4 separate regions of the Homo sapiens genome follow, and all the other regions are linked to region 3. The links come from fine-mapping of genetic effects on gene expression. A gene starts in region 3. Each other region holds a variant in brackets. All regions are shown on one strand. Distances are between the middles of the regions. Region 1 overlaps GALNTL5 (polypeptide N-acetylgalactosaminyltransferase like 5). Region 2 has its middle 62 kb from the start of XRCC2. Region 3 holds the start of LINC01003 (long intergenic non-protein coding RNA 1003). Region 4 has its middle 37 kb from the start of LINC01003.

What was found.
Region 1: its variant is fine-mapped to the expression of LINC01003 in ileum (GTEx, PIP 0.98).
Region 2: its variant is fine-mapped to the expression of LINC01003 in stomach (GTEx, PIP 0.90).
Region 4: its variant is fine-mapped to the expression of LINC01003 in minor salivary gland (GTEx, PIP 0.93).

What each region holds. Positions count from the first base shown.
Region 1 is chr7:151,996,709-152,004,815 of GRCh38, forward strand. It overlaps GALNTL5 (polypeptide N-acetylgalactosaminyltransferase like 5), which reads left to right. Exons shown (of 9, transcript NM_145292.4): 6 at 6,006-6,255. Among named protein-coding and RNA genes, the nearest start is that of GALNT11, 25 kb to the right of the region's middle. The variant G/A (reference allele first, on the strand shown) is at 4,580.
Region 2 is chr7:152,609,898-152,618,004 of GRCh38, forward strand. No RefSeq gene overlaps it. Among named protein-coding and RNA genes, the nearest start is that of XRCC2, 62 kb to the right of the region's middle. The variant G/A (reference allele first, on the strand shown) is at 4,645.
Region 3 is chr7:152,460,267-152,468,373 of GRCh38, forward strand. It overlaps LINC01003 (long intergenic non-protein coding RNA 1003), which reads left to right and starts at 3,858. Exons shown (of 1, transcript NR_027387.1): 1 at 3,858-5,279. RefSeq lists a silencer at 3,490-4,509 and enhancers at 3,782-4,283, 4,284-4,783.
Region 4 is chr7:152,496,988-152,505,094 of GRCh38, forward strand. No RefSeq gene overlaps it. Among named protein-coding and RNA genes, the nearest start is that of LINC01003, 37 kb to the left of the region's middle. RefSeq lists an enhancer at 2,922-3,422. The variant T/C (reference allele first, on the strand shown) is at 3,500.

The DNA of each region.
Region 1 (8,107 bases), 460 kb before region 3:
ACTGTGCTCTAGACAGAGCAACACATCACAACCTCATCTCACAAAACAAATTAAAACAAGATACAGCAATAACATAACGTGTAGGTAAAAAAAAAAGAAAAAATATTTTTAAGATTTTAAAAATGCTTGGTTGTAGAGACCAAACTGAGAATTTTAATGTGATGTAAAATAAATTATATATAATGAGTTACGTTTAAGGGTGAAAATGTGGACACTAACCAAAGAACGAAAATAAATACAAAACAGAGAAAAACAGGAAATACTGTGAAATTGATACATACGCTATTTGTTGCTTTTCAAAAAACAAGTTAACAAACGTTGCAATCCACAATCCCTAGAGAAATGGTGCAAATAGACTACGACAGGAGAGCAGAAAATAAGCTTCTACACAGGGTAAGATGGAGGACGTAGCTCCCAACTCCAAACTTTAGGGAGCAATGGAATTGTTTAGAATATTTCCACAAATACTCTTTGGAAGCAAGTAGGGGAAGAATTCCTCTATCAGGCAGGCTTGACCTCACGCCCTTTACTCATCACAAGCACTAAAGAGAATCTGATGAATGTCTGATAGGTCATCTAGCACATGAATGATAGGCCATCTCTAAAACCAATAAATAGCACGGTCCTTCCCGAAACTCTCGAAGGCAGCAGAAGTAGAGCAACCGTCCTTTCCTAGCACCAAACTTTAGGTTTCCACAAAATATTCCTGTGAAGGAGAGAAATCAGCTGAAGAGGGACCCTCACTACTACTTTGCTCTCCTTACAGGATGTAAATTTCCCCTGTTAAATATTTTATGATGAGTGAAAATAAAACCTCATTGAAATGTAGGTGCTAGGTGGCCTGTTCCCACGTTTTTAACTTAAATCAAAATTCAGTAATACCCCATATTAATTTTGCATAAAGTATAATTTTAAATTATTTTGCAATTTTTAATATTGCATTTATGGTCTTTCTGGGTCATTAGAATCCTCAAAGTTGCAAATATTTAAATCTTTCAATATTAAGGGTACAAGTGTACACTGTATACAGTAAAGAGATACCACAAATCTGTATGGGAAAAAAGACTTTTAAAATGTTTTTGTTGCAGTTGTTGTTTAATGCCACTTAAACAATTAGCCATTTGGGAAAATTTTAGGTCTTTATTTCATACCATAACCCAAATAAATTATAACTGGATTAATGTTAATTTTATTTTAAAAAATCAAACCATAGCCAGGTGTGGTGGCTCATGCTTGTAATCCTAGCGCTTTAGGAGGCCAAGGCAAGAGGATTGCTTGAGGCCAGGAGTTCTAAGACCAGCCTGACAACACAGTGAGACACCATCTCTACAAAAATTTTTATTAAAAAAAGTAGGCGAGTGTGTTGGTGCACACCTGTAGTCCTAAGCTACTCAGGAGGCTGAGGCAAGAGGATCGCTTGAGTCCAGGAGTTGGAGGTTATAGTGAGCTATAATAGCACCACTCCACTCCAGCCTGGGCAACAGAGTGAGACTGTCTCTGTAAAAACATCATCATCATCAAACTTCTTAAGGGATAATTTAAAAATATAAAAACATAGATTAATACTTGCCTGTTTTATGAATAAAGAAATTTCAAAGCTTAAAACCAATGGAAAAGGTGCTAAAAAAAAGTCTATTTTTTTAACAAAAAAATGTAAAATTGCTGCAAATAAAAAATAATAAAATTAAATAACAGTAGGCTGGGGAAATGTAACAGGACTAAAAGTTAATATTTTTAGTATGTAAAATGTACATTTAAAATCCATTAAAAATACAACTCCAAGCTGGGCATGGTGGCTCACGCCCATAATCCCAGCACTTTGGAAGGCTGAGGCAGGTAGATCATTTGAAGTCAGAAGTTTGAGACCAGCCTGGCCAACACGGTGAAACCCCATCTCCACTAAAAATACAAAAATTAGCTGGACATGTTGGCAGGTGCCTGTAATCCCAGCTACTTGGGAGGCTGAAGCAGGACAATTGCTTGAAGCCAGGAGGTGAATGTTGCAGTGAGCTGAGATCATGCTACTGCACTCCAGCCTGGGTGACAGAGCGAGACTCTATCTAAAAAAAAAAAAACAAAAAACAAAACTACTCCGATAGGCAAAGTACACGACAATTTCATTTACAAATGGCTAATCATGTGGAAAATTCAACCTCACCAGCGATTAAAAAAAAATTAACCAGATTTTTTAAAATTGAGGCACGATTAACATAAAACTGATCATTTAAAAATGAACAATTAAGTAGCATTTCGCACCTTCACAATGTTGTACAGCCATGACCTCTAACTCCAAAACATTTTCATTACCTGAAAAGAAAGTCTTTTAGCCATTAAGCAGCTTCCTTCCCTCCAGTCTCTGGCAACCACCTATCTGTGTTCTGTCTCTTTCTAGATATTTCATATCAACGGAATCATACAATATGTAACTTTTTGTGTCGGGCTTCTTTCACTTAGTATATTTTTGAGGTTCATCCACATGGTGGATGTGTCAGTGCTTCCTTTTTTATGGTTGAATAATATTCCATTCTGTGATACACCACAGTTTGTTTCTCCATTCATCCATTGATGGGCATTTGGGCTGTTTCCCTCTTTTGGCTGTTGTCAACAGTACTGCTGTGACCATGCACATATATACATTTGTTTGAATTCTTTTGGGCATGTTCCTAGGAATAGAATTGCTGGGTCTTATGGTAATTCCAGGTTTAATTTTTTGAGGAGCTGCCAAGCTCTTTTCTTCAGTGGCTGCACCATTTACACTCCCACCAGCAATGTGTAAGAGTTCAAATTTCTCCATATCCCTGCCAAAACTTATTTTTCATTTTTTAAGTTCTCGTCATCCTAGTGGAAGTGAAGTGGTTCTTCACGTTGGTTTTGATTTGTGTTTTCCTAATGACATGATGTTTCGCATCTGTTTGTGTGCTTGCTAGCCATTCGTACATCTTCTTAGGAGAACCAGATGTTATTTTTCACCTATCAAATGAGCAGACATGATTTTAAAATGCTAATAATGTTACGTAATATTATAGAAGCTATTTTAGGTGAAAAATGTGAAGTATAAAGCTGTGTGTGTGCTGCCAATAGTATGAAAACATATGTGTTAAAAATGGGACTCTTGTTAGCTCAGTTTTGGTTGAGGCATGAAAATCATAGCTGTAATATTCCAAAGTGAGTTGTTAGACTGACCACGATAAAGATATTTCAAAATAGAGATCTGAGAACCAATGAGATGGCTCAGCCAGATTGAGTCATGTTGTTAGAGATTAAAGGAGATTTTTGGAGAAAGCTACTGCTCAAAGCCTGGTGAGAGAGACTTGATATGAATTCAGCACATTCTCAGACATCAATACAATAAAATTGGAAATATATTGGGATTGAGGAGAAGTGAACTAATGTTAGTTTTCTGCCGAAAATCAAAAGGATAAAAAGACTGTGACCAGCTGTAGAACAAAGGACACTTGCTTTTAGATTAGTAGCTGTATTTATGGCAGAGTTTGCTTTGGCAGTGTTGGAGAGAGAGCTATAGGGATCATCTTAGATGGTGTCCGGTAGGACTATCTAGAAGAATGGACAGGCCTCAGCAGAGAAGCTGGAGACAGAACACAGGATCTTAAGGAGCTGAGAAGACAGATTGAGTCACCAGAATAGAATGCACTTGCCCAGTTTGTGGGAACTGCTGACCAGAGACCACCAGGGATGAGAAGGGAGGTCCTCAAAGTTGCTATTGCCAGCCACACACCCTCAGAGAACTCAGCCCAGAGAGTGCCCTTCAGGCAAGAGAGAACTTTCCTGTTCTCTGTACTCCTCCCCTCCCACCCATCATTCCCAACAGCACTGGACAAGTGTTTCAATTTCTCCACCACCTCCCCAACACTTGCTATTGTCTGTCTTTTTCATTCTTGCCGTCCTAGTGGATGTAAAGGGATACCTCACTGTGATTTTTATTAACGTTTTTCTGATGACTAATGGTGTTGAACATCTTTTCACATGCTCATCAGCCATTTATACGTCTTTGCAAAGATGTCTATTCAAATCTCTTGCGCATTTTAAATCAGGTTGTCTTTTTATTACTAACTTGTAAGAATTATTTATATATTCTCATACAAGTCCTTTAGTATATGTATGATTTGGAAATACTTTCCCCCATTTTGTGGATTTTTTTCTCTTTCTTTGTTTCTTTTTCTTTTCTTTTCTTTTTTTTCTTTCTTTTTTTTTTTTTTGACAGAGTCTTGCTCTGTCACCCAGGCTGGAGTGCAGTGGCACGATCTTGGCTCACTGCAACCTCCGCCTCCTGGGGTCAAGTGATTCTCCTGCCTCAGCCTCCTAAGTAGCTGGGATTACAGGCACCCACCACCACACCTGGCTAATTTTTTTTTTTTGTATTTTTAATAGAGACGGGGTTTCGCTATGTTGGCCAGGCTGGTCTTGAACTCCTGACCTCAGGTGATCCACCCCCCTCAGCCTCCCAAAGTGCTGGGATTACAGGCATAAGCCACCGCACCAGCCATTTTTTTTTTTTCATTTTCTCGATTGTGTCTTTTAAGCACAAAAGTTTTTGCTTTTGATGAATTCCAACGTATAT[G/A]TTTTTTCTTATGTCCCCTGTATTTTTGGTGTCATATCTAAGAAACCATTGCCTCACCTAAGGTCATAAATATATGCTTATGTTTCCTTCTGAGTTTTATAATTTTAGCTCTTACCTTAGGTCTATGACCCATTTGATTTGATTTTTAGTATGATATGAGGTAGGGGTCTAACTTCATTCTTTTGCATGTGGATATTCCGTTGCCTCAGCACAATTTATTGAAAAGACTATACTTTCTCCATTGAATTGTCTTGGCCCTTGTCAAAAATCAATTGACCATAGACACATGGTTTATTTCTGGTTTCTGTGTCTATCCTTACACCAATGGCACACTGTTTTGATTATTATCACTTTGTAGTAACCCTTGAAATCAGAAAGCCCTTCAACCTTATTTTTCTTTTTCAAAATTATTTTGGCTAATCTAGGTCCATTGCCTTTTCATATGACTTTTAGGATCAATTTCTTTAAAAAGAGCCAGCTGGGATTGCAATAGGGATTGCACTAAATCTGTAGATTAGTATGGGGGTTATTGCCATATTAAGTCTTCTGATCAAAACATGAGATTTTTTTATACCTTTCTAATGATTTTACACTGGCTACAAGAAAAAGTCTAAACTCTGCTACTTGAAGTTTGGGGTTCCTTCTACATCAAGCCCCTGGTGTACTTCAATAATACACTTTCTCTACTTTAACCATGCCAATTATTCCCATGTCCTCTAAGCAGAATAGGTCCCCACTGAAGCTTGAACTCAAAGGCTGAGGTGGGCGGATCACCTGAGGTCAGGAGCTCGAGACCAGCCTGGCCAACACGGTGAAACCCCGTCTCTACTAAAAATACAAAAATTAGCCTGGCATGTTGGCAGGCACCTGTAATCCCAGCTACTTGGGAGGCTGAGGCAGGAGAATTGCTTGAACCCGGGAGGCGGATGTTGCAGTGAGCCAATATCATGCCACTGCACTCCAGCCTGGGTGATAGAACAAGACTCCATCTCAGAAAAAAAAAAAAACTTGAACTCAAGAGCAAAAGTCGTGATGCATGTCTGCATCCCATGCACCAAACTCAATGCCTAAGAAGGTGTCCTTTCAGTAAAAATTTGCTAAATTTAAGCTGATCAGTCAAGACCAAGCTAAAATCATTTTTTAAAATGGAAATCCAGTTCAGTTCCACCTGCTCCTTTAGAATTCTCCCCAAAACCACTCTCTAACCCACAATTACTGGCTTCCCCTCAACATCTATGGCACATGATGTTGCATATTTTTGTACATAATAATGTATTTCTTGTTTCCTTCCAATGAAAATGAAAGCACTGTAAGAGCCAAACACATAGTAAATGCTCAAGAAATATTCATCACATTGAACTTTGATTTGGATTGCCGTATTTTTTCAGCTATGTGGACTAACATTGCCCTGTTCTTGCCTCCCCAGGGGATGTTCTGGTGTTCCTGGACAGCCACTGTGAGGTGAACAGAGTATGGCTGGAGCCCCTGCTGCATGCCATTGCCAAGGACCCCAAAATGGTGGTGTGCCCCCTGATAGATGTCATTGATGATAGAACTCTGGAGTATAAGCCCTCTCCTCTTGTAAGGGGAACTTTTGATTGGAACCTACAATTTAAATGGGATAATGTTTTCTCTTATGAGATGGATGGACCAGAAGGATCTACTAAACCAATCCGGTGAGATTTCTTCTGGTTTTGGAAAAATATAGCATACGTGTATTGAGACCCAGGGGGAAAAAGCCTCCAGAGATTATTCTTTCAAGTTCTTGGGCTTAATCAAAATGTTATGTTACTTGTTTCTAGAAGTCTTTAATACAGTAATAGAATTATTGTTAATAGAATCACTTAGGACTCAATATATAACGTGATATGATATTTATCTTCATATCATCTATAACTCTTTGATTCTCTGGTACTGAACACAATCCTATATGGATTCAATCATGACTTTCAGGAGCAATATTTCATTTGACTAAAAGCTCAAGTCAAACAGATCTGGTTTGAAGGAGAGACTCCATCATTTGTTAGCAGTTTAGGGCTGCCATGTACAGTTGCACCAGCTGTGCACTGCACATCTCCAGGAGATACTGTTCACACAAAGACCACAAGGTCAATGGCATGTCTGGAATTGTACATTAAGATGGCCCTCAGTTGGCACAATTACCTCTCTCAACTTCAATGTCGTCCTCATCTGTTAAACAGTGATAGTAATAATTAACACATTTCTTAGGATCGTTGAGGGGATTAAATGAGCCAATACATGTAAAACACATAGCATAAGGCTTGACACAGAGGAAGTGATCTGATCAATATCAACATTAGCTACAGTAATGTCACAGACTTTGGAACAAAGAGGAACAAAAGTGTACTTTATTGTAATAAAATGTAATATGTAGAAATCTCAACTTAATAAAAATAAACAGCATTAATCTTTTGAGTTATCTCAAAACTATTTTAAATAGTTACTTTTAGTAAGAAATAGCTATGGTGTTCCAATTACACAAACTTGGTTTATAATTTTTGTAATATTTCCATATCTCACATATAAAACATTTTTAGGCTCTAATGTAAAAATAACTGATATTCAACAGGGAAACTGTATTCCTAATATTTATTTGCTAAATGGTAAAATGTTTAGAATTCTAATACACTGCTCGTGTGTATATACATTGGATCATTCTTTTTGAAAACAATTTGGCAATGCAAATTAAGAATCTTATAAATATCCTTATTCTTTGATGCAGTAATCCACTTACTTGAATTTATTTGAAGAGAGTCAGAAATAAGCACGGAGATATATATAGTGTGTCAATATTTATATTCATAAAAAACTGAAAACAACATATTCAATACTATTGAAATGGGTAAAAAATAAAGTATATTCATTTTTATGGACTATCACATAATCATTAAAGTTAAGTTTTCAAGGGCTAATTAACTAGAAAGAAAACTTCTCATGTGTTAAATTAAAAAATCAAACCATAAAAAATGTTCTGTCAGTATACCTTTGTGTGATTAAATATGTACCTATTATATGTAATATATATTATACATATTACATATATTATAATTGTATGTTACATTAAAATATATAATATGTATAAGAAAACATAAGTTATTTTTTAAAGGTTAAAAGAAAAAATAAATTTTATTTTGTTATTTTATTGATTTATTATTATTTGTATAAATATAAGGGGTACAAGTGCAATTTTGTTATATGGCTATATTGCCTAGTGGTAAAGTCTGGACTTTCCAAGTATCCACCACTCAAACAATGTACACCGGACCCATTAAGTCACTTCTCATCATCCATTGCCCTCCTGTCACCACCCTTCTGTCTCCAATGCCTGTCAGTCCACACTCTATGTCCATGTGTATACATTATTTAGTTCCCACTTATAAATGAGAACATGTGTATTTCTCTTTCTGCTTCTGGATTGTTTCACTTAAGATAATGGCCTCCAGTTCCATCCATGTTGCAGCCAAAGACATCATTTTATTCTTTTTTATGGCTGAATAGTATTCCATT
Region 2 (8,107 bases), 150 kb after region 3:
ATATTCCAAAAATATTTTCATAGTTAAAGGTGCTTAAGGAAGCAACTCATTAATTTGATACCAATAAGGGGAAGGAATCAAGTATTTATCCTGCCTTTGCAAACATGACGGGGGAATTCTTCTCTATAGAAGAACTATAGCTAATATATGCCAAAGGAATGAAAACATTAGAATGCTGCCATTTAGTAAACCCTAACAAAATCATTCTAGCCACTGATTATCAATATCTGCTAAAATTATTGGGTGAAATGTTAATAGGGAACTTTAGAATAGATGGGTCAGGCTGACAACATTTGAACTCTGATCAGTTCTAACATTATTGGATAGTGAGAGATTTTGTGCCTCCTGAATAAAAAGCAAAAGCAAGTTCACAGCACCACCTATAAAGTATTCTTGGGTTTTTTATTTGTTTGTTCTTTGTATTTCTTTGTCGCTCTGTCACCCAGGCTGGAGTGCAGTGGCACGATCTTGGCTCACGGCAATCTCAGCCTCCCAGGCTCAAGCGATTCTCTCACCTCAGCCTTCTGAGTAGCTGGGACCACAGGTGCGTGGCACCAGGCCCGGCTAATTTTTTGTATTTTGTGTAGAGATTGGGTTTTGTCTTATTCCCCAGGTTGGTTTTGAACTCTAGGGCTCAAGTGATCCTCTCACCTCGGCCTCCCAAAGTGTCAGAATTACAGGTGTGAGCCACCGCGCCCAGCCCAAGGTATTCTTGAAAAACAAAAACAAACACAAAACAAAAAAAACCTAACTCTCATGAATGGTCTAAATTTTTCTACTAGTTTATAGAAAATATGGGGGCTAAAGGAGCACATAAAAGAACACTGTGAGGCGGCCAGGCACGGTGGCTCATGACTGTAATCCCAGCACTTTGAGAGGCCAAGGCAGGTGGATCACTTGAGGTCAGGAGTTCAAGACCAGCCCGGCCAACATGGTGAAACTCTGTCTCTACTAAAATTACAAAAATTAGCTGGGCGTGGTGGCGGGTGCCTGTAATACCAGCTACTTGGGAAACTGAGGCACGAGGCTCTCTTGAACCGGGAGGCGTAGGTTGCAGTGAGTCAAGATCGCGCCACTGCACTCCAGCCTGGGCGACAGAGCAAGAATCCGTCTCAACAAAAAAAAAAAAAAAAAAAAAAGAGCACTGAGGATATAATCTGCCACATTTAGACTGTAAAATTGTGTAGGACAAATGACGACCTCGTCATGCAATCACAACTAAGTTCAGGGTGACCTTGATTTCATCCTGATTCAAACAAACTGAAAAGGCCGGGTGCGGTGGCTCACGCCTGGAATCCCAGCACTTTGGGAGACCAAGGTGGGCAGATACCTGAGGTCAGGAATTCAAGACCAGCCTGACCAACATGGTGAGACCCCCATCTCTACTAAAAATACAAAAAATTAGCTGGGTGTGGTGTCAGACATCTGTAATCCCGGCTACTCAGGTGGCTGAGGCAGGAGAATCACTTGAACCTGGGAGGCGGAGGTTGCAGTGAACGGAGATTGCGCCACTGCACACTGCATTCCAGCCTGGGTGACAGAGAGAGACTCCGTCCCCCCAAAAAACAAACAAACTGAAAAGACATTTTAATTATTTTAGTTGTTTGGTCTTTTATTTTTAGAAACAGAGTCTGGCTGTGTTGCCCAGGCTGAAGTGTGGTGGAGTGATCATAGCTCACTGCAGCCTTGAATTCCTGGGTCCAAGTGATCCTCCTGCCTCAGCCTCCTGAGTTCCTGGGGCTACAGGTGCACGCCACCATTCCTGGCTAATTTTTTATTTTTTGTGGAGACAGCATCTCCCTCTGTTGCCCAGGCTGGTCTGGAACTCCTGGCTTCATGCAGTCTTCCCGCCTTGGCCTCCTACAGTGCTGAGATTACAGTTGTGAGCCACCACACCCGGCCTAGTTTTTAATTTTTATGGGTACATAATAGGTATATATGTTCATGGGTGCATGTGATGATAAAGGTAGACCATGTGTAATAATCACGTCTGGGTAAGTGGGGTATCCATCACCTTGAGCATTTATCATTTCTTTGTGTTAGGAACATGGAAAATTAGACTCTTTTATCTATTTAAAAATATACAATAGGGCTGGGCACGGTTGCTTATGCCTGTCATCCCAGCACTTCGGGAGGCCCAGGCAGGCGGATCACCTGAGGTCAGGAGTTTGAGGCCAGCCTGACCAACACGGTGAAACCCTGTCTCTACTAAAAATACAAAAAATATTAGTTGCGCATGGTGGCAGGCACCTGTAATCCCAGCTACTTGGGAGACTGAGGCAGGAGAATCACTTGAACGTAGGAGAATCACTTGAACCCAGGAGGCAGAGGTCGAATTGAGCTGAGATGGCACCATTGTACTCCAGCCTGGGCGACAGTGCAAGATTCCGTCTCAAAATACGTGTGTGTGTGTGTGTGTGTGTGTGTGTGTGTGTGTGTGTGTGTGTATAAACACAATAAATTATTGTTTAGTGTAGTCACCTGTTGTGCTAGATCTTATTCTATCTAACTATATTTTTGCCCCCATTAACCATCCTCACTCCACCCCCACACCTACCACTACCCTTCCCAGCCTCTGGTAACCATCATTCTATTCTCTATCCCCATGAGTTTGTTTTAAATTTTAGTTCTCACATATGAGTGAGACATGTGCAATTGGTCTTTCTGTGCCTGATTTCACTTAATGTAATGTCTTCCAGTTCCATCTGTGTCACAAATGACGGAATTTCATTCTTTTTTTGGCTGAGTACGTGTCCATTGTGTACATGTACCACATTTTCTTTATTCATTTGTCGGTTGATGGAGGCTTAGGTTGCTTCCAAACCTTGGCTATTGTGAATAGTGCTGTGATAAACATGAGAGTGCAGATATCTCTTTGATACATTGATTTCCTTTCTTTGGGGTTGATATGGTTTGGCTGTTTCCCCAGCCAGATCTGAACTTGAATTGTATCTCCCAGGATTCCCATGTCTTGTGGGAGGGACCCAGGGGGAGGTAATTGAACCACGGGGGCCAGTCTTTCCCATGCTATTCTCATGATAGTGAATAAGTCTCATGAGATCTGATGGGTTTATCAAGGGTTTCCGCTTTTGCTTTTTCCTCATTTTCTCTTGCCGCCACCATGTAAGAAGTGCCTTTCGCCTCCAACTATGATTCTGAGGCCTCCCCAGCCATGTGGAACTGTAAGTCCAATTAAACCTTTTTTCTTCCCAGTCTGGGATATGTCTTTATCAGCAGTGTGAAAACAGAGTAATACACAGGTGTATACCTAGCAATGGGATTGCTGGATCATGTGGTAGCTCTATTTTCAGTTTGTTGAGGAACCTCCATACTGTTCTCCATAGTGGCTGTACTAATTTACCTTCCCACCAACAGTGTATGAGGGTTCCCTTTTCACCACATCTTCGATCCTTGTCAGCATTTGTTATTGTCTGTCTTTTGGATGACAGCCATTTTAACTGGGGTGAGATGATATCTCATGTGTGTTTTTTTTTTTTTTTTTTTTTTTTTTTTTGAGACAGAGTCTCACTCTGTCACCCAGGCTAGAGTGCAGTGGCACTATCTTGGCTTCACTGCAACCTCTGCTTCCTGGGTTCAGGCGATTCTCCTGCCTCAGCCTCCCGAGTAGCTGGGACTACAGGTGTGTGCCACCATGCCCAGCTAATTTTTGTATTTTTAGTTGAGACGGGCTTTCACCATGTCGGCCAGGATGGTCTTGATCTGTTGACCTTGTGATCCACCCACCTTGGCCTCCCAAAGTGCTGGGATTACAGGCATGAGCCACTGTGCCTGGCCCTCATTGTGGTTTTAATTTGCATTTCTCTGATGATTAATGATGTTGGCCATTTTTTCATCAGAAAGACCTTTTTTTTTTTTTTTTTGAGATGGAGTCTTGCTCTGTCGCCCAGGCTGGAGTGCTGTGGCGCGATCTCAGCTCACTGCAAGCTCTGCCTTCCAGGTTCATGCCATTCTCCTGCCTCAGCCTCCCAAGTAGCTGGGACTACAGGCGCCCGCCACCACGCCCGGCTAATTTTTTGTATTTTTAGTAGAGATGGGGTTTCACCGTGTTAGCCAGGATGGTCTCGATCTCCTGACCTCGTGATCCACCTGCCTCGGCCTCCCAAAGTGCTGGGATTACAGGCATGAGCCACCGTGCCCGGCCTGAAAAGGCATTTTTGAGGCATTGTGGAAATGTGAACATGCCTGGATAGTGGGTGATATTAAGGAACTGTTTATTAGGGAACTGTTTTTTGGGGGTGCAGTAATTATGTTATGGTTATTTTTTGAAATATCTTTACCAGGCTGGGCAACATAGCAAGACTGTGTCTCTAAAAAAATTTTTTTTAATTAGCTGGGGGTGGTGGTGCACGCCTGTAGTCCCAGCTACTAACTTAGGAGGTCATGGCGGGAGGATCGCTTGAGTGTAGGAGTTTGAAGCTGCGGTGAGCCACGATCAAACCACTGCCCTCTACTGCACTTCACTCTGGGCAACAGGGCAAGACCCTGCCTCAAAAAAAAAATTGTATTAAACTATATTAGAATGACATGCTAAAGCACTTATAAGTAAAATGATACGTCTGGTATTTGCTTAAAAATTCTCTAGTAAAAAGAAAAAAAGCGGAGGTGGGGGGAATAGGCCAAAAA[G/A]GATGGCAGAAGGTAGAGAATTCACTGATGGACAGGTATATGGGGGTATATATGGGGTATATGGGGGCTTATTCTACTTTTGTGAGTTTTTGAGAATTCCCATAATAGAAACAATTAAAAAAAAATTTTTTTTTGAGACAGGGTCTCTCTGTCGACCAGGCTGGAGTGCAGTGGTATGACCTCGGCTTACTGCAACCTCCACCTACCAGGTTCAAGCAATTCATGTGCCTCAGCCTCCTGAGTAGCTGTGATTACAGATGTCCAGAGTAATTTCTGAATTTTTAGTAGAGTTGGGGTTTCACCATGTTGGCCAGGCTGTTCTTGAACTTCTGACCTCACGTGATCCACCTGCCTCGGCCTCTCAAAGTGCCGGGATTACAGGCCTGAGCTACCACGCTGGCCTAGAAACCAGTTGTAAATCCTCCTTTGCTTTTTCCTCTCTGAGGTATTTTCCTGCTAAAGAGCAAGGTTGAGCACTTCACACTTTATCTCAAAGTGTCTTTGAAGAGTAAAGCAAATCTCTCAACAGAGTATTCCAAGATAAAGAACAGCCATCTCCAAATTCATGCCACAGTGAGGAACTGTGCTAGGTCAGGAGACTGTTTGGAGCCCGGGACACTGGGGGTTAACAGCCTGTGCCTGGCAGCTGAGTGTCCCCACAGCTGCCAGCAATTAGACTAGCTGGCAGTCCCCTTAGGAAACTCCTGCTGCCTGATGAGGACTAATTGCTTGCCGGCGTCTAAGTCCCCAATCGATAGAAATGGAAATCCATTAGGGAAAGGCTGGCGGGAGGGACTGCCTTCTGGGGAGGGTGCAGCCCTGCAGAGGCACAGGCCTGGCCAGGGTGGGTGCTGCCAACACTGCCAACACACCCTACCGTGGGTGCTGCCAACGCACCGTCCCTGGAAAACCACCCAGTGAAACGCTGTCCCCTAGAGAGTGTTCCTTTCCTCCTGACTGTGGTCTACCACTGAAGAAGCCTGTCTGCCCAACGTGGCATTACCACAATTGCTTCTCAGAGAAACAAACCACGTGTCCTGGGAGAGTGGCAGAGGCCAAGGTCAGTGCAGACAGGGATGCTCTGTAAGGTTCGGTGCAGCTAAGCAAGGGGGCTTAGCTGAGCTTTGAGTCAGGCAGTTTTCTGTAATAAGCAGACTCAGTGCAGTGACTCGTAAGCAGCTACTGAAAATCCATACTTCAGATCCCTGTCAGTTAGAAATTGTGTCCACACACCAGAGAGAATGGCAGTTTTCATGGGAATTATTTCAACCAATGATATGCTGGTTTCGGAGAAAACAAAGATGAGTAGGACCTGGTCCTTACCTTAAAGAATCCTACCATCCATGCAAGTTCAAAAACAACGTGATTCCAGAGGGACAGTTTAAAATGCTTATGAGAACAAAATAAAATGAGGATTTCTAATCCCACCACCACCACCAAATCTTCTCACTTAATTGATTTTTTGGTTAAAACTACCCCTCCCACTCACAAGGAGTTTTGTTTTCAACCTATTTGGAAATTCAAGGCTATTATAATGAAGTATGTATTGTATTATTTGAGAAAATACATTTGTGAGCTTACTTTAGATAAGTTGCACAAGTTGGATACGGGTCACATAAAAAGTTCTTTCTTATCAGGAGTTCAGGAACAAAAAGTCCCTCTGTAAGATTATATATAAAGATTATATTCAATTCAAACTGTGATTTTGTTTCTCCAGAAATAACATGCTTGTTGTTAAGAGTTTATGAAAATTAGACGAGAAAAGAACCACAGTATTATTTTGCAACTTTGTGCAGAGGCAGATTCTTGTCCCTCTTGCACTACAATTGCCAGAATTCTGAACAGGGGCCGGGCACGGTGGCTCATGCCTGTAATCCCAGCACTTTGGGAGGCCAAGGTGGGTGGATTGCCCAAGCTCAGGGGTTCAAGACCACCCTGGGCTACATGGCGAAACCCCATCTCTTCTAAAAGTACAAAAATTAGCTGGATGTGGTGGTGAGTGCCTGTAGTCCCAGCTACGGGGGAGGCTGAACGCAGGAGAATTGCTTGAACTGGGGAGGCGGAGGTTGCAGTGAGCTGAGATTGCAGCACTGCACTCCAGCCTGGGTGGCAGAGCAAGATTCCATCTCAAAAAAAAAAAAAATAATTCTGAATGCAATTGAAGTAAAACTATTGTAAAGTTAAAAAATGAAGTGAAATGTGTTCTTGTTATTGACCTCAAATATAATCTAGAACAACCTGTGTAAGCACTTAAAGCATTTGCTTTTAAGGCATTGGATTCACAATCAGGTTCATTGCAAATGATCCACTCATTAAAAGAAGGTCTGGCACCCGCAACTCATTTAAGTTGTATGTGTGTGTTAAAGGAACACTGAAACTGCATTTCTGTTAAAACATTGATTCATATTTTCCCAAACTAGTACCGTATGACTTTTCAATGTAGACTTAAGGCAATTTCAAATACCAATTACCACATTATAGAGAAATCCTTAAAATTTCACCAGTGTTTTCTTTTAGAATAAGTGCTGCAGACGGGCACGGAAGAGACGCCTGTGGAAATGATCTGGATTTCACTGTACAGTTATGTCTCTGAGGCTATTGCCTATCAAACCACTTTTTGTTTAGGAGGTTGCTTAATGGGAGTCAATTCTTAGTATTCTTCCGTGCTGCTGAACAGGGTGAGGTCATGCAGGAAGCCGAAAGGGACAGATGAATTTCAGTGACAGAGCTCAGGAGGCCATCAGGAGAACAGACCTTGTCAGTGACTTGCAAATTCACTTGTTTAAAGTGTATTTTTTTAAATGTTTTCATAAAATAGCCTGATTATAAAGTAAGGAGACTGGTTTTAGAAACTTCAAAAGAAAGCAAATCTCATTGTTCTATGCTCAAAACCTATACTTTGTCATTTGATCCAAAGGAAGACATGTATTACTTATTACTGTGTTGGTCAATAAGAGGGGAAGAAGGAAAAGAAAGTGATCTGTAGGAGATGACACAATTGATGAACAGCAGGGCTGCTCTGACAACCTGATTCTATCAATTTCTAATTCAGTGCTCATCCTTTACTTTTTTTTTTTTTTTTTTTTTTGAGATGGAGTCTTGCTCTGTCACCCAGGCTGCAGTGCAGTGGCATGATCTCGGCTCACCTCAACCTCTGCTTCCCGAGTTCAAGTGATTCTCCTGCCTCAGCCTCCTGAGTAGCTGGGATTACAGGCATGCGCCACCATGCCCGGCTAATTTTTGTATTTTAGTAGAGACCGGGTTTCACCATGTTGGTCAGGCTGGTCTCAAACTCCTGACCTCGTGATTCACCTACCTCAGCCTTGCAAAGTTCTGGGATTACAAGCGTGAGCCACCGTGCCTGGCCATTGGTGCCTTTTTAAGGAGAACCCAGAGAACAGCCTTGCCCCTTCCACCATGTGAGGTTACAATGAGAAGGCTTCATCTGTGGACCAGAAAGCAG
Region 3 (8,107 bases):
ACAGTGGCCTTGGGACAATGGCCTTCCCACTCTCCTTGTCACGAAATAGCAGGATTAAAAAAAAAGGGGGGGAGGATATTTATTTAATCCTTTTGTTACAAATTAAAGTTGCTAATTTGTTTTCAAAAATTGCAGGAAATAAAGTACACGAATCAAAGAAACACAAAATATTTAAAAACAAAATAGCTATTCTCCCAACTTTCTTACTTATAGGTATGTCTATACAATTGTGGCAGAATCCAAAGGGAAGGACAGTTTGGTTAGTCCATTTGGTCACAGCAAATGTACCTGTTCATTTGTTCATCAACGATTTGTTGAGCACTCACCTTGTGCCCTGAAGATACAGTTCAGAAAAAACACCGAAAAGGCCCCTGTGTCCAGCAGCTCACATCTTAATGGTGGAAGGGAGATGAAGGAGAACAGACCATAATAAGTAAGTAAACAATGATTTCAGACTGTGCCAAGAGCTCTGAGGAAAACACGGTGATATGATAGGGAGCGGGGAAAGGTACTTTAGGTACAATGTCAGAAATGCCTCCCCCAGGCCAGGCGAGGGGGTGCAAGCCTGGAATCCTAGCACTTTGGGAGGCCGAGGTGGGTGGATCACTTGAGCCCAGGAGTTTGAGACCAGCCTGGGGTTTCACCATGTGAAACCCAGACTCCACAAAAAAAAAAAAAAAGACAAAAAAAATTGGCTGGGTGCCATGGCTCATGCCTGTAATCCCAGCACTTTGGGAGGCCAAAGCAGGTAGAGCTCAGGAGTTCAAGACCAGACTGGCCAACATGGTGAAACCCCGTCTCTACTAAAAATACAAAAATTAACTGGGCACCATGGTGGGTGTTTGTAATCCCAGCTACTTGGGAGGCTGAAACAGGAGAATCACTTGAACCCAGGAGGTGGAGGTTGCAGTGAGCCGAGATCATGCCACTGCACCCCAGCCTGGGTGAAAGAGCAAGACTCTGTCTCAAAATAAATAAATTAATTAAATTAAATTAAAATTAAAAAAATTAGCCAGGTGTGGTGGTGCATACCTGTAGTCCCCACTACTTGGGAGGCTGAGGTGGGAGGATCACTTGAGCCCAGGAGGTCAAAGCTGTAGTGAGCCGAGATTGCACCACTGCACTCCAGCCTTGGAGCCTTGGCAACAGAGAGAGACCCTGTCTCAAAAAAAAAAAAAAAAAAAAAAAAAAAAAAGAAAGAAAGAGAAAGAAAGAGAAAGAAAGAAAAAAGAAAAAGAGGCCAGGTGCAGTGGCTCATGCCTGTAATCCCAACACTTTGGGAGGCTGAGGTGGGCAGATCACTTGAGGTCAGGAGTTCGAGACCAGCCTGACCAACATGGCGAAACCCTGTCTCTACTAAAAATACAAAAATTAGCTGGGTGTGGTGGCAGGCACCTGTAATCCCAGCTACTAGGGAGGCTGAGGCAGGAGAATCACTTGAACCTGGGAGGCAGAGGTTGCAGTGAGCCAAGCATGGGCGACAGAGTGAGACTCCATCTCAAAAAAAGGAAAAGGAAAGGAAAGGAGGAAGAAACGAAGAAACGAAGGAAGAAAGGAAGAAAGAAAGAAAAATAAAGAAAAGAGAGAGAAGAGGGAAGGGGAGGGGAGGGGAGCAGGGAAGAGAGGAGAGGCTGGGCCCAGTGGTTCACACCTGTAAGCTGAGGTGAAGGAGTTTGAGACCAGCCTGGCCAACATCGTGAAACCCCATCTCTACTAAAAATACAAAAATTAGCCAGGGTTGGTGGCACGTGCCTGTAATCACAGCTACTCAGGAGGCTGAGGCAGGAGAATCGCTTAAACCTGGAAGGCGGAGGTTGCAGTGAGCTGAAATCGCACCATTGCACTCCAGCCTGGGCGACAGGGCAAGACTCCGTTTCAAAAAAAAAAAAAGGAGAAAGAAACAAAGAAAGAAAGAAAAATGCCTCCCCAAGGTGACAGACGAGCTAAGCCAGGCGAAAAGTCTAAAGAAATTCAAGTGCAAAGGCCCTCTGGCAAAAAGGTCTTGGCAGAAAGGTGGTCAGTGTGCCTGCTGCACTGAAACTGCTCCTGTAAGGCAGGGATCCTATAAGGTAGGCCTTGAATGTCATGATGGGGAGCTCGGTTAGGACCCCCATGATAGGTAGGAAGGCAGCTGGAAAGAGCAGTTCTGCCATTTTTACGGATACATTCATGAGCCATGATGGGTCGTCCTGGTGGACCTCTGGAGCCTGACCTGGGTCCACGTTTGAGGTCTCCGACTTTAGTGACCCTGGGAAAGTTACTTGAGTTTCCTCATTTGAATAGCCAAGGGTTTCTCGTGTTTGATGCCAAATGCCTTGTGCGGGGATTGGCTCCAAACCTCAGCCTCATCAGTCAATTTATCCTTACGTTCAAGAGCAGCCATTTACAAAACGAGCTCAGAAAATTAAAAAAAAAATACAAACTTTAAATCGCCAGAATACTGCATAAACTAAAAGTAGGCCGGGCGCAGTGGCTCACGCCTGTAATCCCAGCACTTTGGGAGGTCGAAGCGGGCGGATCACCTGAGGTCAGGAATTCGAGACCAGCCTGACCAACATGGAGAAACCCCGTCTCTACTAAAAATGCAAAAATTAGCTGGGCATGGTGGTGGGCGCCTGTACTCCCAGCTATTTGGGAGGCTGAGGCAGGAGAATTGCTTGAACCCAGGAGACGGAGGTTGCAGTGAGCTGAGATCGCGCCACTGCACTCTAGCCTGGGCGACAGAGCGAGACTCCATCTCAAAGCAAACAAACAAATAAAAACAAAGTAAAAGTAAATTCCCCAGGCAAAGCTGATTATATTGCTGGGATAATCGACTTTGTCACTGCAGTCTCACTTGGTACTTTAAGAAACTCCATCTTGATCCTAGGTCTGGGTCGATCTGGGCGTTCCTGCTAATTTTCTGTTTTAAAAACCTAAAGCAATAAAAATGTTGATATTGACATTTATCATTTTTATCCTCGCCCTCTGCCTTGTTTTGCTGGGAGATCTGTTCCACTTGGCTGAGTTTAGGGAGGGCGGGGAAGCGGGGGAGAAACCGAGGCGCAGGGTGGAGAAAGGGAGAAGCCTTGCAGACTGAACACATGAGAAAACCTGGAGAAGGGATTCGCTGCTGCTTATTTCAGGGAAGAAAACCGAGAAGTGAAGCACAGAGGGGTCAGGTTCCGGGAGCGGCGGGAAGGTTGTAGGGGGCCCCAGGGCAGGTCCTGGAGCTCAGGCAGCCGGCACCGGGAGCCCAGCTCAGGCTGCGGGGTGCAACCGGGCAAGAGCGCTCGGGCTGCCGAAACGGGAGGAGATCAGAAAAAGGAGAGACATGGAAAAAAGGAGAGGAAGAGGAGCAACACTCAAGAGGGAAGGAAGAAGGCAGACACTGAGGAACGCCCGCAGGAACCCGCAGACAAGCAGAGAGCCGGGCTGCGCTGGGAGCGGGGCCCGCGGAAGGGGCGGGGCGCCAGGCGGCTCGAGGCCAATGGGAGGGCGGGCCGGGGCGAGGGCGGGGCACTAGGCGAAACGACGCCAATGGGAGGGCGGGCCGGGGCGAGGGCGGGGAATTAGGCGGTGCGAGGCCAATGGGAGGGCGGGCCGGGTCCTCTGGGCTGAGGCGGGGTGCCAGGCGGCACGAAGCCAGTGGGAGGGTGAGTTAGGGGCAGGGGCGGGGTCCCAAGCCAATGGAAGGGTGATACCGAGAGGGCGGGGCGCCAGGCGGCGAGAGAGCCAATGGGAGGCCGAGCCGAGGACCGCGGGCGGTGGGCCTCCCCCCGAGAGGAGGGAGACCCGGAAGGCGGTGGGGGCGGGGAGTGGAGCTGACAACCTGTCAAATCCACTTTGGGACGAACTAGGTCACGCGCTCCGCGGGTCGGGCACCCCCGCCCGCCAGGCACGGCCGCGGCTCCTTCCTCTTCCTGCCCGCGGTAGTGGGGGTGGGGCAGGCCTCGGGACACCTGCCTCCGCCGCCGGCCGCCGGCCGCCGTCCTCGCGCGGCTTCCCGGGCGGCTCTGCCCCGACCGTAGACTCCCGGCCCGCTCGCCGCGGCAGGAGCCGTGGTTCCGCGGACCTGGGCGCGCTCTCTCCCTGGCCACTGGGAGACCCCCCGCGGCCTCGCGGGGAAAACCTCGGGACTGCCCCGCGCCCCCGGCCGTCTCTGCGTCGCTCCTTCTCGCCCGCGACCGTGGACTCGTCCTCGCGAGCCTGGGTTGGCGGAAGCTGCGGGGGCCGGGGTCGCACTACTTGGCGCGGAAGGGCCGGCGGTGGGCGGAGGGATCCCCGTCCGCGGGGTGAGCCGCTGGGCGGAGCCGGGAGGAGCCGCGAGGATCCGCAGTGGGGAGCCGGGAGGAACCTGGCGCCGGCACCCACCCGCCGCGCCCACGCGTGCCGCGGTCGCTTGTTTCCCGCGGGAGCCCGGCCGCGCTCGGGGGGAGGCGCGCGCGCAGCTGGGGCTGCCTGGGTCTAGGAGCTCCGGAGCCACCGTTTTGTGCCCGTGGAGCCGCGGGGAAGGCGCACGCGCTCGGGTCTTCCCGGCGGGTCGTCCTGCACTTTCTCCCTCTCCGGTACGGACCGCGGCGTTCTGTTTCCAGGCAAAGGAAAATAAGTCAAAGACTCAGAAGGCAGCCTGAATCCAGGGCCTGGGATGCAGGGTTTGCTGGAACGCCAGCCGGTGCGATCGCGCCCCTGGGATTCCGCTTAGCCCGCGCGTCCATTTCCCTGCATGGTGGACTCAGTAAAGCCGGATCTGTCCAACGCCTGCAGCGTGGATGTGGAGGCGGACTAATCAACTAGTGCTCTGTTATTATTTCTACCCATCCCTTTTCTCCATGCTAATTTGCTTAGAACTTTAACATTGAATGGACAGCAAATGTCATGTTCTGTTTAATTATCACTCCTTGACCATTATGTTAATTTCTTTCCCTAACAAGGTGACGCATTGTTTTAAGTAACAATGACCAACTCATCTACTCTTCTTCCAAATTGTGTAAATTGAAGGGTAAAATGTGGGAAAACGCTAAATTTGAATGCTAAATTTGAACATTTCACACAACAATAATTTGAAATGCTTCTTTGCAATATTATGGCGTTTCGGAACAGATAAAAATACTTCATTTTCAGACATTTGGTCAACAAATACTTCTTGGACGTTTATATGCAAAGCAATGCATGTAACATTTTCATTACTTTGCAAGTGTGCTTATCAGTAAAAGAATTTTGTTTTAAATTCTAGCCTTCGTTTAAATGTATTTTAGTTACCACATTGGGAAGAAAATAAAATATTACTATGTACGGAATGTACAGACGTATGTTTTTTTATTTACAAAAAATAGAAAGAAAATATGGCCGGGTGCTGTGGGTCACGCATGTAATCCCAGCACTTTGGGAGGCCGAGGCAGGCGGATCACCTGAGGTCAGGAGTTGGAAACTATCCTGACCAATATGGTGAAACCCACTCTCTACTAAAAGTACAAAAATGAGCCTGGGCGTGGTGGCGGGTGCCTGCAGTCCCAGCTGCTTGGGAGGCTGAGACGGGAAAATTTCTTGAACCCGGGAGGCGGAGGTTGCAGTGATTGTGCCACTGCACTCCAGCCTGGGCAACAGAGCGAGACTCCGTCTCAAAAAAAAAAAATCTATATCTATATATATATATAGATATATAAAGATATAGATATATAGATATCTATATCTAGGTCTATATAAGTATATATCTATAGATATCTATATATAGGTCTATATAGATATATGTATAGATATATATAGATACCTATATATCTAGATAAATGTATAGATATATAGATCTATAGAGATATCTATAGATCTATATAGATGTATGTATAGATATATAGATCTATGGAGATCTCTATAGATCTATATAGATATATGTATAGATATATAGATATCTATATATAGATATATAGGTCTATATATAGATATCTATATATAGATATATATGTTCCTTAAATTCAACATTAAGAATGAGCTTATTCATAATTAGCTGTAGTATTACACTTGAACTACCATATTTATTACATTTATAAATACTATTTATAAATAGTAATATAAATAGTAAATGCTATTAACATTTAGTAAATGCTATTAAGGTAGGAATAGAGGTTCCAATCTTTTAAATAGAAATTAAATACAAACAAAGCAACAAAAAGAGACCTTTCATATATGGTTATTGGCTTGTCATTGTAGCCAGTTCCTTACTGCCAGCTAATTTTCCAAAGGGAATCGTTGCTTTCTGTTTTGACCAATTGGCAACCTCAACAGTGCTAGAAACTCTTAGCCCTCATTGGGTATATAAATATATATCTTATTTCAAATGTTTTGTTATCTATTCCTACTGAAGGTTGTTTTCTTCTCTCTTTTTTTTTTGAGACGGAGTCTCACTCTGTCACCAGGGCTGGAGTGCAGTGGCGCGATCTCGGTTCACTGCAACCTCTGCCACCGGGGTTCAAGCGATTCTCCTGCCTCAGCCTTCTGAGTAGCTGGGATTACAGGCGCCCGCCACTATGCCCAGCTAATTTTTTGTATTTTTAGTAGAGATGGGGTTTCACCATGTTGGCCAGGCGGACTCAAACTACTGACCTCGTTATTCACCCGGCGCGGCCTCCCAAAGTGCTGGGATTATAGTCATGAGCCCGGCCCTCTTTTTTTTTTTCGTTTTTTTTTTTTTTTTGTGCTCATCATTTTGATCTTAATACCCACTAAAAAGATAATAAAACCACAAGTGTTTTTCTTCAGATCACGAGATTGTCAATAATAGAAAGTCAACACTGTCAAATCATGAGAATGAATTGCATATCATTGTACAAAAATTGAATACTGGAATTTAGCTCCTAGATCTATTATATTACCATAATAAGAAAAACTAAAGAATTAAAAAATCTAAACAAAATGCAATCCTAAATGATATTGCGGCCAGGCACAGTGGTTCACACCTGTAATTCAGCATTTTCGGAGGCCAGAGCAGATGGTGGCTTGAGCCCAGGAGTTGGAGACTAGCCTAGGGAACATGGCAAAACCTCATCTCTACAGAAAGGAAAAAAGGCAAAACCTCATCTATACAAAAAATTAGCTGGGCGTAGTGGCACATAGCTGTAGACCTAGCTACTCAAGAGGCAGAGGCAGGAGGATTGCGTGAGAACGGGATGTCGAGACTGCAGTGAGCCATAATGGCGCCACTGCACCCCAGCCTGGGCAACAGAGCAAGACCCTGTCTCGAGACAAGTTCGTCTTGCTGCATTTCAGTATTTTTAACTCCTTTAATGTAGTGTAGACAATTTTGATATGATGTGTCACATCTTTTTTTAACGTCTAATTTCTTTTTTTTTTTTTTTGAAACGGAGTTTCACTCTTGTTGCCCAGGCTGGAGTGCAGTGGCGTGATCTCTGCTCACTGCAACCTCTGCCTCCCGGGTTCAAGCAGTTCTCCTGTTTCAGCCTCCCAGGTAGCTGGGGCTACAGGTGCCTGCCACCATGCCCAGCTAATTTTTGTGTTTTTGGTAGAGACGGGGTTTCACCTTGTTGGTCAGGCTGGTCTCGAACTCCTGACCTCAGGTGATCCACCCACCTCGGCCTCCCAAAGTGTTGGGATTATAGGTGTGAGGAACCTGGCCTTAACGTCTAATTTCAGAAGAAAGCTAATTCTCCTTTTTTTTGGGGGGGGGGGACAGAGTCTCGCTCTGTCACCCAGGCTGGAGTGCAGTGGCGCGATCTCGGCTCACTGCAAGCTCCGCCTCCCGGGTTCACTCCATTCTCCTGCCTCAGCCTCTCCGAGTAGCTGGGACTACAGGCGCCCACCACCACGCCCGGCTAATCTTTTTGTATTTTTAGTAGAGACGGGGTTTCACCGTGGTCTCGATCTCCTGACCTCATGATCCGCCCGCCTCGGCATCCCAAAGTGCTGGGATTACAAGCATGAGCCACCGCGCCCAGCCGAAGAAATCTACTTCTTTCCGTTCCTCTTAAAGATGAAAATTAGAAACATTCTGCCTTAATTATTTTTATTTTTTTGAGACAGTCTTGCTCTGTCGCCAGGCTGGAGTGCAGTGGCATGATCTCAGCTCACGGCAACCTCCGCCTCCTGGATTCAAGCAGTTCTCCTGCCTCAGCCTCCC
Region 4 (8,107 bases), 37 kb after region 3:
GCCTGTAGTCCCAGCTACTCGGGAGACTGAGGCAGGAGAATGGTGTGAACCCGGGAGGCGGAGCTTGCAGAGAGCTGAGATGGCGCCACTGCACTCCAGCCTGGGTGATAAGGCAAGACTCCGTCTCAAAAAAAAAAAAAAAAAAAGAAATAATAAATTAAGAACATGATCCTTTTTAAAAATTATTTCTTGAGATGGAGTCTCACTTTGTCACCCAGGCTGGAGTGCAGTGGGCCTATCTTGGCTCACTGCAACCTCCACCTCCCAGGTTCAAGCGATTCTCCTACCTCAGCCTTCTAAGTAACTGGGATTACAGGCACCCACCACCACGCCTGGCTTATTGTAGACAATGATCCATTTACGGGCAACACAAATATATGATAGTGGTGACAGTCATAATTAGTGTTTTGTGACTGCCTTTGTATAGAACTTTAGTAGGGATTTCATAGATATAATCTAAATGACATATCCTCAATATCTGTGCTCCTTTTCTTTTTTGAGATAAAGTTTCACCCCGTTACCCAGGCTGGAGTGCAGTGGCTCAATCATAGCTCAAGCAGTCCTCCTGTATAGTTGGGACTGTGCGCACATGCCACTGCACCCTGATTTTATATATATATGTTTTGTTTTGTTTTGTTTTGTTTTTAAGAAGGAGTTTCACTCTTGTTGCCCAGGCTGGAGTGCAATGGCATGATCTTGGCTCACTGCAACCTCTGCCTCCCGGGCTCAAGTGATTCTCCTGCCTCAGCCTCCTGAGTAACTCGGGTTACTGGCGCCCCCCACCACACCCGGCTAATTTTTGTATTTTTGTTAGAGATGGGTTTTCACCATGTTGGCCAGGCTGGTCTTGAGCTCCTGACCTCAGGTGATCCACCTGCCTCAGCCTCCCAAACTGCTGGGATTACAGTTGTGAGCCATCGTGCCCGGCTTTTTTATTTTATTTTATTTTTAGTAGAGATGAAGTCTTGTTATGTTGCCCAGGTTGGTCTTGAACTCCTGGGCTCAAGCAATCCTCTTGCCTTGGCCTCCCAAAATGTCAGGATTATAGGTGTCAACCACTGTGCCCAGGCATTTTTCCTTTTCTAGTAACAAGAATCCTGATTTTTTTGCTGGGCACCTGGCTGTGAACACTACAATGCTCAGCCCCTCTTACAGCTGGAGTGGGCACCTTCTGGAAATCATCCTTCCCTTTCTCCTCTTTCTCCTGGCCAGCACGCAGAGGAGCAGGCCAGGGCTGAGACAGCTGGCATGGACCACCTGAGGCCATGGAGTGACGTGCAGCCAAGAGCCTGACAGAGGAGTCAGGGTCCCTCACCCAGGGATGGCAGAACCAGCCTTGATTTTATCTAAGGGAGAGATGGACTTCTATCTGCTCAAGCCACTGATTGTTGGCATTTTCATTACTTGCTGCTGAACCTTATCTTCATTAATACAAATAGGTTGTCATTATATATTTTCTTTTTTCTTTTTTTCTTTTTTTTTTTTTTTTGTTTCAGAGTCTCGTTCTGTTGCCAGGCTGGAGTGCGGTGGCGCAATCTCGCCTCACTGCAACCTCTGCCTCCCGGGTTCAAGCAATTCTCCTACCTCAGCCTCCCAAGTAGCTTGGATTACAGGCACCCACCACTACGCCCGGCTAACTTTTGTATCTTTTTGTAGTAGAGATAGGGTTTCACCATGTTGGCCAGGCTGGTCTCGAACTCCTGACCTTGTGATCTGCCCACCTCGGCCTCCCGAAGTGCTGGGATTACAGGTGTGAGCCACTGTGCCAGGCTGTCATTATTTATTTCCTAAAGGCATTAGACAAGTTCCTAAGACATGGCAAAATTTGAATATGAACCAGGTCTGTTTTCTGTAAAACTTTGTTATTTTCAGTAAATTATTCTTCTTACCACTAATGTTTACAAAAATGGCAGCTGTATACTATTAAAGATTTGCAGAGAATACAAAGTCAAAATATCAGTAGCCACTGAGAGCTTTAACTGAAGCTCTCAGATAAATATTTAAAGACCTAGGACTTTTAAAGGGACTATTTACAGTGGAATAGTGTCATAAACTGAATTTTGAAAAAACAAACAGAAAGTGTAAAAGAAAGCTCTCCAAGGGACCAATACTTTAATTTCAGGAGTGTTCTCATCCTTTGTAACATGGTATTTTCTATATAGTGTGAAAGGAAAATAAATCTTGGGACCCCAAAATTACTAAGCCAAGGAAAAAGTCAGGCTGGGAAGTGTCAGGCAAACCTGCTTCCCATTTTATTCCTAAATAAGATAGTTACAAAGATAAAAAAGCTATATACCTCATGTAATCATGATTGTGGTATTTTTATTTCTTATTTATTTATTTATCTTTTTGAGATGGAGTCTTGCTGTGTCGCCCAGGCTGGAGTGCAGCGGCGCAATCTCGGCTCACTGCAAGTTCCGCCTCCCGGGTTCACGCCATTCTCCTGCCTCAGCCTCCCGAGTAGCTGGGACTATAGGCGCCCGCCACCACGCCTGGCTCTTTTTTTTGTATTTTTAGTAGAGACGGGGTTTCACCGTGTTAGCCAGGATGGTCTCGATCTCCTGACCTCGTGATTCACCTGCCTTGGCCTCCCAAAGTGCTGGGATTACAGGCATGAGCCACCACACCTGGCCTGATTGTGGTATTTTAAAAAAAAAAGAAAAAAGAAAAAAAGTAAATTAGAAAAAAGCTACATGGCTGGGTGTGGTGGCTCACGCCTGTAATCCCAGCACTTTGGGAGGCCGAGGCAGGCAGATCACAAGGTCAGGAATTTGAGACCAGCCTGACCAACATGGTGGAACCCTGTCTCTACTAAAAAAATACAAAAATTAGCTAAGCGTGGTGGCGCACACCTGTAATCCCAGCTACTTAGGAGGCTTGAACTCGGGAGGCGGAGATTGCAGTGAGCCAAGATTGCACCACGGCACTCCAGCCTGGGCAACAGAGCAGACTCTGTCTTAAAAATAAATAAATAAAAATAAATAAATAAAAGCTACATACCTTCCTCACAATTTGCCCCCAGAGAAATTCCTTGTGGGCCTCAAGATCTTTACCCTAAAACAGTTCTGTTGAATTTCACCCTGGCAATGTAAATTGATAGCTTATCTTTACAGATGAGGGACCGTCCCTCTGCTCACCTGAGACAAAGGCATATCTGATTGCTTCCTCTACTGGTTATGTAAAAATGCAGATTCACTGAGTCATGCTCAGTTATGTATTCAGTGAAAGGCTGATCAAGGACTCCAAAGAATGCAACCTTTTTTTTTTTTTTTTTTTGAGACAGAGTCTGGCTCAGTTGCCCAGGCTGGAGTGCAGTGAGGAGATCTCGGCTCACTGCAGCCTCTGCCTCCCAGGTTCAAGTAATTCTCCTGCCTCAGCCTCCTGAGAAGCTGGGACTAAAGGTGCACCACCATATCCAGCTAATTTTTGTATTTTTTTGGTAGAGAAGGGGTTTCCCTGTGTTAGCCAGGTTAGTCTTGATCTCCTGGTCTCAAGTGAT[T/C]CCCCCTGCCTTGGCCTCCCAAAGTGCTGGGATTACAGGTGTGAGCCAATGTGCCCGGACTAGAATGCAGTCTTTTGTCTCTTATCTACCTGGACCTGGAAGCCCCAATTTTGAGTTGTCCTGCCTTTTGGGACCAAACCAATGTACATCTTTTTTTCATTTTTTATTTTTTTGAGATGGAGTTTCGCTCTTGTTGCCCACGCTGGATTGCAATGGCACGATCTCAGCCAACTGCAACCTCCGCCTCCCGGGTTCAAGCGATTCTCCTGCCTCAGCCTCCTGAGTAGCTGGGACTACAGGCGCCCGCCACCATGCCTGTTTAATTTTGTATTTTTAGTATACACGGGGTTTCTCCACGTTGGTCAGGCTCAAACTCCCGACCTCAGGTGATCCACCTGCCTCGGCCTCCCGACCTCAGGTGATCCACCCACCTCGGCCTCCCAAAGTGCTGAGATTACAGGCATGAGCCACCGGGCCCGGCCAAACCAATATACATCTTACACATATTGATTGATGTCTCATGTCACTCTAAAATGTATAAAAGCAAGCTGTATCCTGACCATTCTGGCATATGTCCGCAGGACCTCCTGAGGCTGTCTCACGAGTGGTCATTAGCCTTGGCAAAATCAACTTTCTGAAATGACTGAGACCTGTCTCAGATATTTTGGGTTGACAATACACACACACACACACACACACACACACACACACACACAGAGTTTTGGTGACAGGGTTAGAGAAAAATAATATCTACTTTCATGGCTTACAACTCTGGTTTTACAACAGAAGTAAAAAAAATTTTATTCTAATAGCATGATTTATCTTTGCCAATTTTTGAAAATTTTTATTTTATTTTATTTTATTTTTTGGAGAGAAGTGCACAGTCATAGCTCATCAGAACAGAATATCTTACCAGGAGGCATGTCACCCTTGTCTCCTTAAAACCTTTCCCCGCACACACACAAAACACTCTCATTTTGGATTTTGTGCCTATGTTCATGTCATTCCCTCTGTTTGCAATTGCTTTCTTTCCCACCAATCAACTAACTGCGCTAATTACTAAGTCTTGATCTTCTCCTCCATGAAGGCTTCCTGGATTGGTCTAGTCTACAACAGTAGTTCTCAAAGCACAGTACGGCAGCAGCAGTGTCACCTGGGACTGGAAATTCACTCCTGCAACCCCAGACCTACTGAGCTGGCAACCCTGGGGGGCCCAGCACTCTGTGTCATTGAGTCTAAGATGCTTTTGATGTGACTCAGATTAGCTTGTCACTGCTCTAAGGCCATATTGATCCCTCCCTTCTCTGGGTCCCCATGCCACGTACAGTTCACAGTACATCACTTGGAGCTGAATCCCCTTTTAAAGAATTGTTATAGTAGGCTTCCCTAGATTCAGGTAGATTGTCTACTCCCCAGGTAGATATTCAATAAAGATTTAGTGCTTGGCTCTTTGAAAGAAGGTGGTGGCTCATGCCTGTAATCCCAGCACTTTGGGAGGCCAAGGTGGGCGGATCACAAGGTCAGGAGTTCAAACCCGCCTGCCCAATCTGGTGAAACCCCATCTCTAAAAAAAATACAAAAATTAGCTGGGTGTGGCAGCGCATAACTGTAATCCCAGCTACTTGGGAGGCTGAGGCAGGAGAATCGCTTGAACCTGGGAGGCGGAGGTTGCAATGAGCTCAGATTGTGCCATAGCACTCCAGGCTGGGCAACAAGAGTGAAACTTTGTCTCAAAAAAAAAAAAAAAAAATTGAATGCTAAAGGTCACCGCAGCAATCAATGTCATCTTCTGTTGCTGTGGATGTTTATGTTATTATTATTATTATTATTGAGACAAAGTCTCGCTCTGTGGCCCAGGTTGGAGTGCAGTGGTGTGATCTTGGCTCCCTGCAACCTCCACCTCCCGGGTTCAAGCAATTCTCGAGCCTCAGCCTCGCAAATAGCTGGGACTACAGGCCCGACTGATTTTTGTATTTTAGTAGAGACGGGGTTTCACTATGCTGCCCAGGCTGGTCTGTAACTCCTGGCCTCAAGGGATCTGCCCACCTCGGCCTCCCAAAGTGCTGGCATTACAGGCATGAGCCACCACGCTCGGCTGGATGTTCATATTAACACAAGATGCTGTATCAAGACCCACGCGATACTGAACAGACATGACCCTTATCCTTACATGTGAAGATGTGGAATGGTCCTCTCAGGTACATGACTCCACAGGGAATGTATATATTGTCATAATAATTCTACTTACTAACTTTGATTGAGCACCTATTGTGTGCCAGGTAATGTTCTCAGCAGGACTAGCTGCATAATTTGCAGGGCTCAGGGCAAAATGAAAACACAGGGCTCCTTGTTCGAACAGCAGAGAAAAGTGCTGTTAAAGGTACCAAGTACAGGCCGGGCACAGTGGCTTGCGCCCATAATCTCAGCACTCTGGGAGGCTGAGCTGGGAGGATCGTGTGAGCTCAGGAATTTGAGACCAGCCTGGGCAACGTAGTGAGACCTCATCTCTACTTCAGAAAAAAAAAAAATCAGCTAGGCGTGGTGTTGTGCACCTAGTCCCAGCTACTCAGGAGGCCAAGGTGGGAGGCCTGAGCCCGGGAGTTCAAGGCTGCAGTGAGCTATTACTGCACCACAGCATGCCAGCCTGGGCAACTGAGCAAGACCCTGTCTTAAAAAAAAAAAAGGGTACCAAATACAAAGTATTCTTTTTTTCATGATCTATCTGTGTAACTGTCCTGTTTGTAAATCTTCTGTTGAATATTATACTCCCTGCAGCATCAAGGATGCTCCTGGAGGAGTGGGGACGCTCCCAAGGGCTGGGGTCCCTGCCCTACCATTCTGTGTTCACAGGCGCATCCATCTGCCACTGAGCCCCACTCTGACTAGCCACTAGACCAATGCACCATGCCCTGGCTAGGGGCCAGGAGCCTACCACCCAATCTGTGGCAGAGAGGTCACCCTCCAAGGCATTGCAAAGTTTGCACCAGCACACACTAGGTACCTGGGTAGGCAGCAGGCAAGAGGCTTGCCCCCACCGGGGGTGCTCGGGAGCATGCTGTGTGCTCAAGACACCAGGGAACACGTGCCTTACCCTGATCCTCCTGCACCCACACTCAGGCCCTGCCCAGAGTGAAGGGTGGCCAGGTGGCCAGGTGGGAGTGGGGAGGGGGCCATGGAACCCAGGGTGCAGGGGACAGGGGAATGGGCAGTCAGGAACCTGCCAGGGGGAGGCAGGGAGGTGGGACCACACACTGCACTACAAGTCCATGATGCATGCGCACTCCATTGCCCTGTGGGAACAGAAATTCAAAGACAAAATCATTAAGAATTTCAGGCTGGGTGCAGTGGCTCATGCTTGTAATCCCAGCACTTCGGGAGGCTGAGGCAGATCTCATGAGGTCAAGAGTTCGAGACCAGCCTGGCCAACATGGTGAAACCACATCTCTACTAAAAATACAAAACTTAGCTGGGTGTGGTGGCACGCACCTGTAATCCCAGCTACTCAGGAGGCTGAGGCAGGAGAATCACTTGAACCTGGGAGGCGGAGGTTACAGTGAGCCGAGATCGTGCCATTGCACTCCAGTCTGGGTGACAAGAACAAAACTCCATATCAAAAAAATAAAAAATAAAGAATTTCAAGATGATGACTGCAGAACATTCAGTCCCAAGTGTGGGACCCTTTTGAGCATGGGGACGCTGTGTCACGGCACTAACAGCATACCCCTGAAGCCAGCCTCGTTCTGAGACTTTTGTGAGACTTATTAAATCTCCACGCAAGCCTATAAGGGTATTGTCCCCAATTAGCAGACAAGGAAGTTGAGGCATAGACAAGTGGCCTGCCCAAGATTGCTTAGCTGGGCGGATGGGTGGGGTGATACCAGCCCAGTCTCACCCACATCTGCCTGCTTCACCTTGCTCATTGCTGCTCTTCAGAGAATATTTGCAGAGCAATAGAAATTCAGAAGGACAGCCAAATAGTTACAGCTCATGCTCGTCCAGTTGGCATTAAAGCTCTGTCCTCACTGCAGTCCCCACCCCCCACCAATGGTTTGTTGATCCTCTCCCATAGCAGAAGCAGGAACACTGAAACCATGATAGGTATGAGCTCAGGAGACGTTCCCAGGAGATCTGCCTATGGCCTTGGGGAAAACTGGTAGAGCTGGTTGGAGCTGGCCCTCTCCCCAGCTGCCTTCCACAATTAGCTCAGGGGGCACACTTAGTCCCTCCTGGAGGTTTCACGACCTGGCACCAGATGCAGACCCTGGTCAGCTCTGTTAAGGAAGGACTCTGTGAGCAGGTGCTGGTGTCAGCCAGGACTTGGGGTAATCTTCTAGAACTTTACTGTAGTTTTTTCAGTGTCCACACTTCCTGGAATTCGTCTAGTTTATTTCACTGAAAGTGGGCAGGATCTTTGAAAAGACACTCTCAAAAGAATTGGATTCCCCTTATCTATTCAGCATTTCCTTTGTCACCAAAGTGATCAGTCAGAAGTAGTTAGAAAGTAGCCCCAACACGGCCGGGCACAGTGGCTCACGCCTGTAATCCCAGGACTTTGGGGGGCCGAGGCGGGTGGAGCACGAGGTCTGGAGTTCTTAGACCAGCCTGGCC